Regions from separate parts of the Homo sapiens genome. Here region 1 is linked to region 2. The links come from fine-mapping of genetic effects on gene expression. A gene starts in region 2. The other region holds a variant in brackets. All regions are shown on one strand. Distances are between the middles of the regions.

Region 1 (5,387 bases), 67 kb before region 2:
GTATAAATAAATAAGATAGAAAATACCGGCCAACAATAACATAAGTTAGGAGGAGTGATTCAAGTTTAGGTATGCTAAGATTCTTACATGATTTGGAAGAAGGGTGTAGTGCGTTGAATGGTCCCTTCCCAAAAGATATGCCCATGTCCTAATCCCTGGAACCTGTGAATATTACCTTATATGACATAAAATGTGATTAAGTTAAAGGTCTCAGACCCTTAGGCCATATAAGATAATATTCATAGGCAGCACTTCTCTTGGAGAATTCAGGGAAACTCTAAATGTAATCATATGTATCCATATAAGACAGAGATAGAGGAAGAACAGACAGAGGGACAGAAGAGAGAGGAGGAAGAGACAGTGTGACCATGGGCAGAGATTGGAGTGATGCAACCATGAACCAAGGAACATCTGGAGCCACCGGAAGCCAAAAGAGGCAAAAGATTTTCCCCAGTGCTTTCAGAAGGAACACAGCGCTGTAACACCTGGATTTATTCTCTCCTGAACTGTAAGACGATAAATCTCTATTGTCTTAAGCCAACAAATTTGTAGTCATTTGTTACAGCAACTACAAGAAACTACTAAGGGCCTGGCATGATAGCTCAAGCCTGTGATCCTAGCATTTTGGGAGGCCAAAGCTGGCACAGTACTTGAGACCAGCCTGGACAATATGACGAAGCCCTGTTTCTGTATTTAAAAAAAAAAAAAAGAAGAAGAGGAGGAGGAAAGAAAAAAGAAACTAATACAGAGAGTAAATATACTGCTATACTTTAGGCCAAATTAAAAAATTAAAATGTATGTGCTGATAAAGAGCTCAAATCTCCCTAAATGAATTTATTAATTTAACATAAACTCAGTAAAAACACCATTTTTTTGGCCAGGTGTGGTGGCTCATGCCTGTAATCACAGCACTTTGGGAGGCTGAGGCAGGTGGATCGCCTGAGGTCAGGAGTTTGAGACCAGCCTGGCCAACATGGCGAAAACCTGTCTGTACTAAAAATACAAAAATTAGCTGGGGGTGGTAGCATGTCCCTGTTAATCCCAGCTACTCAGGAGGCTGAGGCTGGAGAATCGCTTGAACTTAGGAGGCGGCAGTTGCAGTGAGCCAAGATCTTGTCACTGCAGTCCAACCTGGGCAACAGAGCAAAACTTCGTCTCAAAGAAAAACAACAACAACAACAACAACAAAAAACCCACCATATTTGTTCTAAATAAGAGAATACAATTGTAAAGTTCATAAAGAAAAACAAGAATAGCAGAGGACACTATTACAACCATATGGTAAAACACACCTCATTAATCAAAACAAAGCGTATTGCTATATATATTTTATAAGTATACAGACTAATGGAATTTAATACTTAGTGAGTTCACAAATGGTTACTAATGCATAAAATGCTTAGATTATGATAGAAGTAGCACCTCAAATCCATGGGAAAGATTTAATGACACTGTTAAAAATAAAGCTGAAACAAAGTTGAACCTGTACCTCTAAGCATAGATCAGGAAAAATTCCAACTGGATCAGATTTAAATGTAATATAAAATGAAATTATAAAACATAGTACATTTCTTTTATAGCCTATAAGAGGGAAAGTCTATTACCTAAAATCCAGAAACCATAACAATGATTGTTATAGTGACTACACAGAAACCTATAAATCTAAAAATGAAAACTATTTTCAAATCCTGCATGGCAACACGGACACACCCCCCCACACCCACACAAATGCCTATGGACAAAGCAAGGAAAAAAATGGTAACTTGGGTTAGAAGTCATAAATATTTCGCTAAAATTCACAATTCCTATTACAAAGGGCTAATCTCCTACATAAAGAGCTCCTACAAATCAGTAAGAACATTAACCCTGCAGAAAAATAAGCAAATGTTCACAGACAAATAACTATAAATGATTTTTAAACATGTGAAAAGATCAATGTTGACTTACAAAAGGAATACAAATTAAAAATACACTTAAATATTACTTTTCTCTCATTAGACTGGCAAACATACAGAACTTTGGTAATCATCTTGGCAAGACTGTGGAAAAAGAGGCAGGAGTGTAAATAGTTACAAACCCTCTGGAGAGCAATGTGGCAAAATTACATATAATCTACCAAAAGTGTAAGAGTATATATCCTTTAACCAGGCAATGCCAGAAACTTATCCTAGAGATAAACTAACATGTGCACAATGACATATGTGCATTTTGGGATCTATTTAAAAGAGTAATATTGAAAACAATGTAAATGCTCATCAGTAAAGACTTAGTTATGCCTTCACCAATTGATGTACTACCACTCAGCTGCTTTTTAAAAAGGCATGGGGAAGAAAACTGTTCATGTATCAATATGGAAAGAGCATCAAGATATATTATGAAGTAAAAAAAAAAAAAGCAAGTATAGAGAAAGTTGTCCTTTATTTGTATAAATGGAGGAGTTAATACGTATTTGTATGCGTATTTATAATCTCTATTAGATATATTCTAACATATCTAATATGTTAACAGGCCAACATACATTATAAAGATAAATACACCAGGTTATTAGAAATGAGCAGATGGTGGCAGAAGGATAGAGAAGAGACTTCTCACAGTATACTTTTCAAATATTTTGTGTTTAAGCCATGTGCATGTATTATCTATTAAATTTAAACATTTTAATAAGTATGCATAATAAAATACCTAGAGTAACTTCTAATGAAGTAGTTAGAGTGTAACTTCCAAATAAGCAGAGGGATAAAAAGGAAATTAGAAAAAGGAAACAAAATGTTCAATCCAAAAGGTAAGA[T/C]TAAAAAAAACAACAGAAAATTTCAGTGTAAGGTAAGGTACAACACTACACGGTTGCAACAAATCAAAACATTTCCATAATCACAATAAATGTAAATCAATTTAATTCACCATTTAAAAGATAAAGCCTGTCTCACTGTATTAACCACAATAAATGTGAATTAACTAAATTCTCAAGTTAAAAGAAAGACTTTCCAGACTAAACAAAAACATAATCTAGCTACATACTGTTTTTTAAAGATACACCTAAAATACAAGAGCACAGGTAGGTTGAAATCAAAGGATGGAAAAAATTACATAAAGCATATACATTACTCAAAAGAATGCTGCTGCAGGTATATGACTACCAAGCAAAAAAAGATATTAAGGTAAAAAGGCAAAGAGGGTCAGGCACTTCACAAAGATAAGAGGTTCAAAGGCCCAGAAGTCATGTACTTCTAAAAAGTATGTGTACCTAGTAATATGGCCTCGAAATATATAAAGCAAGAATTGCCATTACTATAAGTAGAAAGTGACAAGTCCATTACATAATGGGAGATTTTTAAACAACCTCCCAGTAACTAATATAAAAAAGATGAGGCTCCTTTTGCCAACTCAAGTTAACCTTCCTTGGAACTAGATCACCATATCAGATACACAATTTCTTACTTAATTCCTAAGAAAATTAATCAGAACGGAAAGACATTCTTCCTGTCTGGTTCTGGTGACCAGTATTCAAACACAGAAATGAGAAGTTACACATGAGCTGCATAAGCAACCACATAGCTAGAGACTAACACTAATGGCTTTGTCAGCAATTCTGTGTGCTTATGCTTCAATTAATCTCTAAATTCCTCAAGGGAAGATGTTGGTCTCTTACACACATTTGTATCACTTCCCATACCTACCACACTGCCTGGTATATAGTAGGTGCTCAATAAATGTTTTATGAGTCATCTACTAAAATACTCCTCTTAAAAATATGTATTCTCTCCAACATCTATGAAGCACCTATTACATACCAGGTACTGTGTTAAGTACTGAGAATACACAGATGAATAAAAATGTCTGCTTTCCAGGGGACCACAACCTAGTAAAAGATAAATAGAAATATATTTTCTTTTTTTTTTTTTTTTGAGACAGGGTCTCACTTTGTTGCCAAGGCTGAAGTGCAGTGGGACACCCACAGCTCACTGCAGTCTTCACCTCCCAGGCTTAGGCAATCCTCTCACTTCAGCCTCCCAAGTAGTTGGGACTATAGGCACGCACTACTATGACCCTGCTAATTTTTGTATTTTTTGTAGAGATGGGGTTTTGCCACGTTGCCTAGACTGGTCTCGAATTTCCAAGCACAAAATCCACCCACCTCAGCCTCCCAAACTGCTGGAAATGTAGGCATGAGCCACTGTGCCTGGCTTAGAAATACATTTTCTTAAAAAGCTGTAAGTAGAGTTTTAAATGGAGTGGTAGATATACAAGCCCAGTGAAAGTACCCACAGACCTAAGGGAAAGGTTCTCACCCATTTAACATATATTTATAAGCACTTACTGTATGCCAGAATCAGGTAGGTGTTAAGAAGAGATATTTGAGTTAATTCTTGTCAAGCAGATGTGGGGTTGAAGTCAGACAGAAGGTACTAAGGGCAATGAGAAAAAAGAATGTAAGGTCCAGGAGAAAAATGTGATTTGCTTGAAGTCAAAGAGCTTGGATAAAGACTAGAACCTACATTCCCTAGTGTCCTTTCCACATTGCTTCTGGAATTCCTGGCCTCAAGCTATCCTCCCACCTCCGCCTCCCAAAGTACTGAGAATATAGGCATGAACCACCGCATGTGGCTCCCACATTGCTTCTCTACACTCCTTCCCCTTAGAACCATCTTTACTCCAATACAGATTCCTATCTAGGTCAATGGATTTTGACAAAAATTCAGTAAGAAATGTCTTTTAAATTGTAGCACAGTATCTATAAATACAATGAACTTAAAAGTTTCAATAAATATCCTTAACTGGACACAATACATGCTACTTTTTGTATACTATTTTACTTTGAAAATACTGGTAGCAACTCATTACCATTGATTTCATCACCTACGAATAGAGCTCAATCCCCATTTTGTAAAATGCTTATTGCTTGCAGTGGTTATTCTACCTCTAGCTTCTCACTTAATAGCCATCCCCCCAAATTCCTCTCCAAACATATTACTAACAACTATGATAGCAAATGCTGTGATAGGCCTTGAGTTTGCTATATGTGTTTAAGTTCTTCAAAAAAGCATAAACCAGGGATTTTATCAAACTTTCCTGAGAAATTTTCCCCAAACTATACATATTTACTACATATCTACTGATATCAGAAGATTCAGTAGATACAGAGTGAGATTTGGACATATGTAATGTTGGGAAAAGCTTCCCAGGTAATAGCACCTTTTTAAAAATATATATATATACGTCTATATAGTATTTTGCAAGTAGGTGGCAATGCTATGCTTGAAATACAAGGGTGGGAATGGCTGCAGTCATTTTTTTTATTTCAACAGGGTTTTGGGGAACAGGTGTTATTTGGTTACATGAATAAGATCTTTAGTGGTGACTTCTGAGATTTTAGTGTACCTGTCACCCCA
Region 2 (5,387 bases):
CAAGTTCAGCATAGGAATACCAAGATAAGACTAGGTTCTTCAGAATTTCAGGGTCTTTCTGGGGAGAGAAATAGGCAGGTATCTCCAGTAGTATTTGGGCAATGTTATAAGAGGTATGTTCAAAGGACTGTGGGAGCACTGAGAATTATGAACCAACTGTATGGGGACTGAAACTACATGAGGTTAGGTTTAATTTTGGGTAGCCCACAGATAGGCACAGAATAGACATAAGTTAACATTTGTTAAATTCGATGACATAAATAGTAGCTACCTTCAATTTGGAGGCAGTAAAATTGTCTAGATTAAGGGAGCAAGTTGGGGAAAACCACTAACTGAAAATCTGAGCAATTAAATTCATTTGGGACTAGCTTCTGAATTTCTTCTCAATTTAATACAATCATTCAACAATACTTACTGAGCATTTACTATGCACAGGCACAGGGCTAGGTGCTGGCGATGTGATGAACAGCATAGAGATGTTCTTCCGAATAAGTCTAAGTCACTGTATTCCAGAAGCAATGCCAGGAGGATGCCCTAGAAGTCACCTTCAGTAACAGACAGATAACTAAACTCATTACTACTTTTGATTCCTGCCTTTTGGTCCTGTGTTCAGGAAACAGCTCCAGGCAGATTTGTGCTGAAAGGGATAGTTTAAAATTTTATGAGATATTTCAGACACATAAGGAGGGAAAAGCTAGTTTTGGGAAATTTTTTTTTTAAGAAATATTTCCCTGTTGTCTGATGGACGTATTTCCCCCACCCTGTTTTTGGTCACCTTAATGATTCAATTGGTGGTTTCTAAATGAGTGCCCACTATGTGTCAGACACTCTCCAAGGCACTGCAGATATAAAAATGAATGCATTCTTATCCCTGCTGTCGCGGACCTCACATTCTGGCAGAGGAGACGAATGGCAGCATAAGACAACCGGTATTTGCATAAGGCGCTGAAGGAGCATAACGAAAGGAGAAAGTCTGGAAGCCATTGTCCAACCCTTGGTTTCCTGAAGTAAAAATGATTTCAACACTAACACGTGAAAATGCGGAAATCCTAGCTGCATTTTGGAGTGTCACCACTCTTGAAATAAAGCCTCATAGGTTCAGAAAATGTGATCAGAGCTGTTAATATTTTGATTCTGGGTGACTAAGAAGTGACAGGTGTGTAGCCTGAGAAAGCCACCCAAGCCCATTTACAGGCATGTGGAGACAAGCAATGTTGAGTCAGGGTGCAGGGTACACCCCAGCTCTATCGGCAGGACAGGTACCTGAGCAGGGGACTTTTAAAATCTTCTGTTGAGAGCTACTAACCCATCAGAAGAAAATCAGTCAAGAACTAAATGACAGTGAAACTTGACACAAAAATTTCCATATCGGATTTTTAAAAAAATGATTGTTGATCTCAACAAACAGCCCACTCCTACTTTTTGAGAAGCATTAACCAGCACAAGTTTGTACTTAGTAAACTAGATGTAAGTTGTTTTCAATACAATTGACATATCTGGCTGGGGGGTGGGGTGGAGAAAGGAAGGGGAAGCACCTGGATGTTGATACAGTACTAGGCATAGAAGGAACCAGAGTGGGAGATTAACACTTGCATAGAAAGAAGAAAACATTAGGAGAAGTGGTGGGGAGAAATGGAGTGAGGAAAAGAGATAAAAGTTGAGAGGTGTGGTAGTTTCTACACTGCAAGGGTTCCAAGGGGTATCACTGCAGGCTGGCCTTCCCATCCTTGATAGAGACACATAAAAACCAGCTCAAGCATGCAGAGAAAACAGGTAACTTCTTCAATGAGCAGATTTGTATAATTATTACTTACCGTTTAGTGTAAAAATATTAAAATCTCACTGCAGGTTTCTCAGTACAGAATTAAAATACTTACACTAGAATTACTCAGGGTGACTGTTTAAAACAATGTAAATTGTGAGCTAGTTCCATCACAGACCTACTGAATCAGATCTTCTGGTGGGAGTAAGATAATGTGAATTTTTAATACGCTCCGCAGTGATTCACATACACAGTAAACTTTGACAAGACTGTACAGAATGGGAGTCTCTGAGAGCAGGGAGTATGTCCTATTTGTCTCAGCACTCATAGAATCTAGCACGGGGATTGGGAGAGTGAGAGCTCAATAAAAGTTTATTGAACTAAACTGAATACACCTAATATACCTAAGAGTCTTTAAAGCAAAAGTCACTCAATTCCACTACCCTGTAATCCATTTTTTCCATATTCTAGTCTATGTACACAGGTTTTACACTGTTGTAATTGCAAACTCACCATTTTAGATTGTATTTTTCAATATATTTTCTCTTACAATTTTTAATGGCTGTAAAACATTCCACCCAACATGAATAAGTATCTCTGTTCATATAGATTTTGAGTTTTGAAAAGGTTTTCCTTAGGGGACCTTACATTTGTGCAGTGCTTGTCAGTTTATGAAACCCTTTCACACAATCTTCATTGCTTTCACAACACTCTGTAAGATAAGCATTATCCTCATTTTGCAGCTGGGTATACAGACTCAAAGATTAATTAACTTGCTCAAGCTTCTACACCTAGTAAGTGGAATGTCAGATTAAACCAGGATCTTCTCACTATGCATTTAATGCCCTTTCCAAGGCACCAAATAATTGGACCCAACAGTTTCCTGATGCAAAAACCTGTAATTTAAAATGTGGCAGATGGAAATTACATTTAAAGAGAACATTGGTCAGCTATATCCTAACTATATAGGAATCAGCTCCTGCCTCTTGGGGTATGGCAAAGAAAATGCATATATTAGTTGACAACTTCTGTGTAAGAACTTACTGTTCTTCAGCAATGCCTCATAACGCTGTCTGTATACGATCCAAGCCCATTTCTGCAATCCTCACATGAAGGGAGTTGGGACTGTCCCTGAACACTCTGACACTGTAATTAAAGTTCTTCGGCAACCACCACAGGCTGTAAGGCAGATAGGAAGGAGGCAGTGGAGACTTGAAAGCTCTTCTAAGATTGGTATCACAGGAAACTTGGGTAGCAGCTGAGTGAACAGGAGAGGGAAGCTTTTATGTACCAATAGAAATGCCCATTATAAGGACACACGACCTGATGAATAACAGAGGGGTGCAGCACTTCAGGGAAGGACAGACAGTCCACCTGAGCAGTTAGAGGTTCTATACTGGAAAACAGGAGGAGTTGTGTTTCTATTTTATTCCATTTGCATGATACAGAGAGACAGGTTTCCTTATTCTCAGGTAGAAGTTTCTAACAACCAGAGCTCTCTGAGGAGAGAAAAACTTCTTGGCTGGGTGTGGTGGCTCAAACTTGTAATCCCAGCACTTTGGGAGGCTGAGGGAAGCGGACTACTTGAGCCCATGAGTTTAAGACCAGCCTGGGCAACAAAGTGAGACCCTGTCTCTATAAAAAATTAGCTAGATGTGGTGGCACATACCTGTGATCCCAGCTACATGGGAGGCTGAGGATTGCTTGGGCCCAGGAGGTCGAGGCTGCATTGAGCCATGTACACATCACTGCACTTAAGCCTGAGCGACAAAGCAAGACCGTTTCCAAAAAATAAGGCTAGGCACAGTGGCTCATGCCTGTAATCCCTGCCCTTTCAGAGGCCAAAGTGGGAGGACTGCTTGAGCCCAGGAGTTCAAGACCAGCCTGGGCAACATGGCAAAACCCTGTCTCTACAAAAAATACAAAAATTAGCTGGGTGTGGTGGCTTGTGCCTGTGGTCCCAGCTACGTGGGAGGCTGAGGCAGAAGGATCACTTGAGCCTGGGAGGCTGAGGCTGCAGTGAGCTGTGATCACGTCACTGCACTCTAGCCTGAGTGAGAGAGTAAGACCCTGTCTCTAAATAAATAAATAAATAAATAAATAAATAAAAGATCTCTATTAAGATAGTGAGTTCCTATTCAGTGAAGCTACAATAGGTAAATTACTAGGAATCAGGAGAAATACAGAGGGGAGTAGTTCATATATCATAAACGGGAAGAATTATCTTCTTTCCAAGATTTTTCAAAACTAGGTTCCTAGGAAAATGGCAAACCAGCAATTCTTATTGAGCTAGTGTGTAGAGAAAGTTATGAATCAAAGAATCACAGTTGTAGATGGCTCAGGTTCGGCAAAATACAGTTCCAGCTGTGTACATGGGCACCTGTTGCAGAAAAAAAACCTTTGTTACACAGGCTCACCATGTATCTATTTTCAGATTATTACCTTGAAAAATCAAAGGTCTGTGACTTCGAGGAAGATATTAATAATTCCTATCAAAGTTTCTTTCATGTATCTTTCTATCCACAATTCAAAGATGATCCTAAAAGGAAGGTGGCAAATGTGAGTATAAACTGATAACAAATTGAGGCACAATGAGCTTAAGTACATTGCTGGGTCTAGGATCCTTTACCCCATTTTTAGTGTTTCTCTTTACTCCAATGTATTTGAGATCAAACATCATCTTCCTTCACATTCTCCTGTCCCTTCACCCTGGGTAGAACAAGGTCAAGGTGAGTATTTTGCGACACATTCAGTAAACTCTGGGGCTTAAGATGCAAGATTCTTTGGTTATTAGGTTTTATGTTTTTTGGTTTCTCTGGAAGCTGAGGGCAGTGAATTTTATTTGCAGTCTTTCTCTCAGTATTAGGAACTTTCGATTTTTTTTTTTTTTTTTTTTGAGACAGAGTCTCGCTCTTTTGCCTAGGCTGGAGTGCAGTGGTGTGATCTCGGCTGACTGCAAGTTCCGCCTCCCGGGTTCATGCCATTCTCCTGCCTCAGCCTCCTGAGTAAGCTGGGACTACAGGCGCCTGCCACCACACCCGGCTAATTTTTTTTTTTTTTTTTTTTTTTTTTTTTTTGTAGAGACAGGGTTTCACCGTGTTAGCCAGGATGGTCTCAATCTCCTGACCTTGTGATCTGCCGGCCTTGGCCTCCCAAAAGGAACTTTGAATTTTTATAACAAATAAACCAAATAAATTTCATGACCAGTAAGATACAAAGGAACAAAGTCCACAATGTATTGTCTTGATAACTAAGAAAATAAGATACATGAAACATGTTTGTGAACTGTAAAGCAATGCCTAAATAATAGTCATGTTATTAGTAACAATTATGAACAGTAAAGGTATAGCAGAAAATTTTTGAAAAGTCATGAGCTATGTTAATTCAATGACCAGCTGCCTGAATGACAGTTTAAAAACCACCTAAACTCCTGGTGTCTTCTTTATAAAGGTCCCCCAGAAACTATCCAGTGTGCTGATAATGGCTAGAAATTCGCTGGACTCCATTTATGGTAATGCTGGGTCCAAACTGCACAACAGCTAACTGGAGCCTTAGTTGATCACAGGCCAATCTAGGGCTCCTGGCAACAGTAGAATGTCCAAGTTCAGGGAGGGATGCTGACCAT

Evidence for each region. PIP is the estimated chance that this variant, and not a neighbour inherited with it, causes the effect. A credible set is the group of variants that fine-mapping cannot tell apart.
Region 1: its variant is the best candidate, but not a certain one, in a credible set for the expression of LINC02728 in whole blood (INTERVAL, PIP 0.67).

The regions. Positions count from the first base shown.
Region 1 is chr11:78,359,701-78,365,087 of GRCh38, forward strand. All of the region lies in intron 1 of GAB2 (GRB2 associated binding protein 2), which reads right to left. Among named protein-coding and RNA genes, the nearest start is that of GAB2, 55 kb to the right of the region's middle. The variant T/C (reference allele first, on the strand shown) is at 2,789.
Region 2 is chr11:78,426,894-78,432,280 of GRCh38, forward strand. It overlaps LINC02728 (long intergenic non-protein coding RNA 2728), which reads right to left and starts at 2,943. Exons shown (of 4, transcript NR_120564.1): 1 at 2,807-2,943; 2 at 416-637. RefSeq lists an enhancer at 222-421.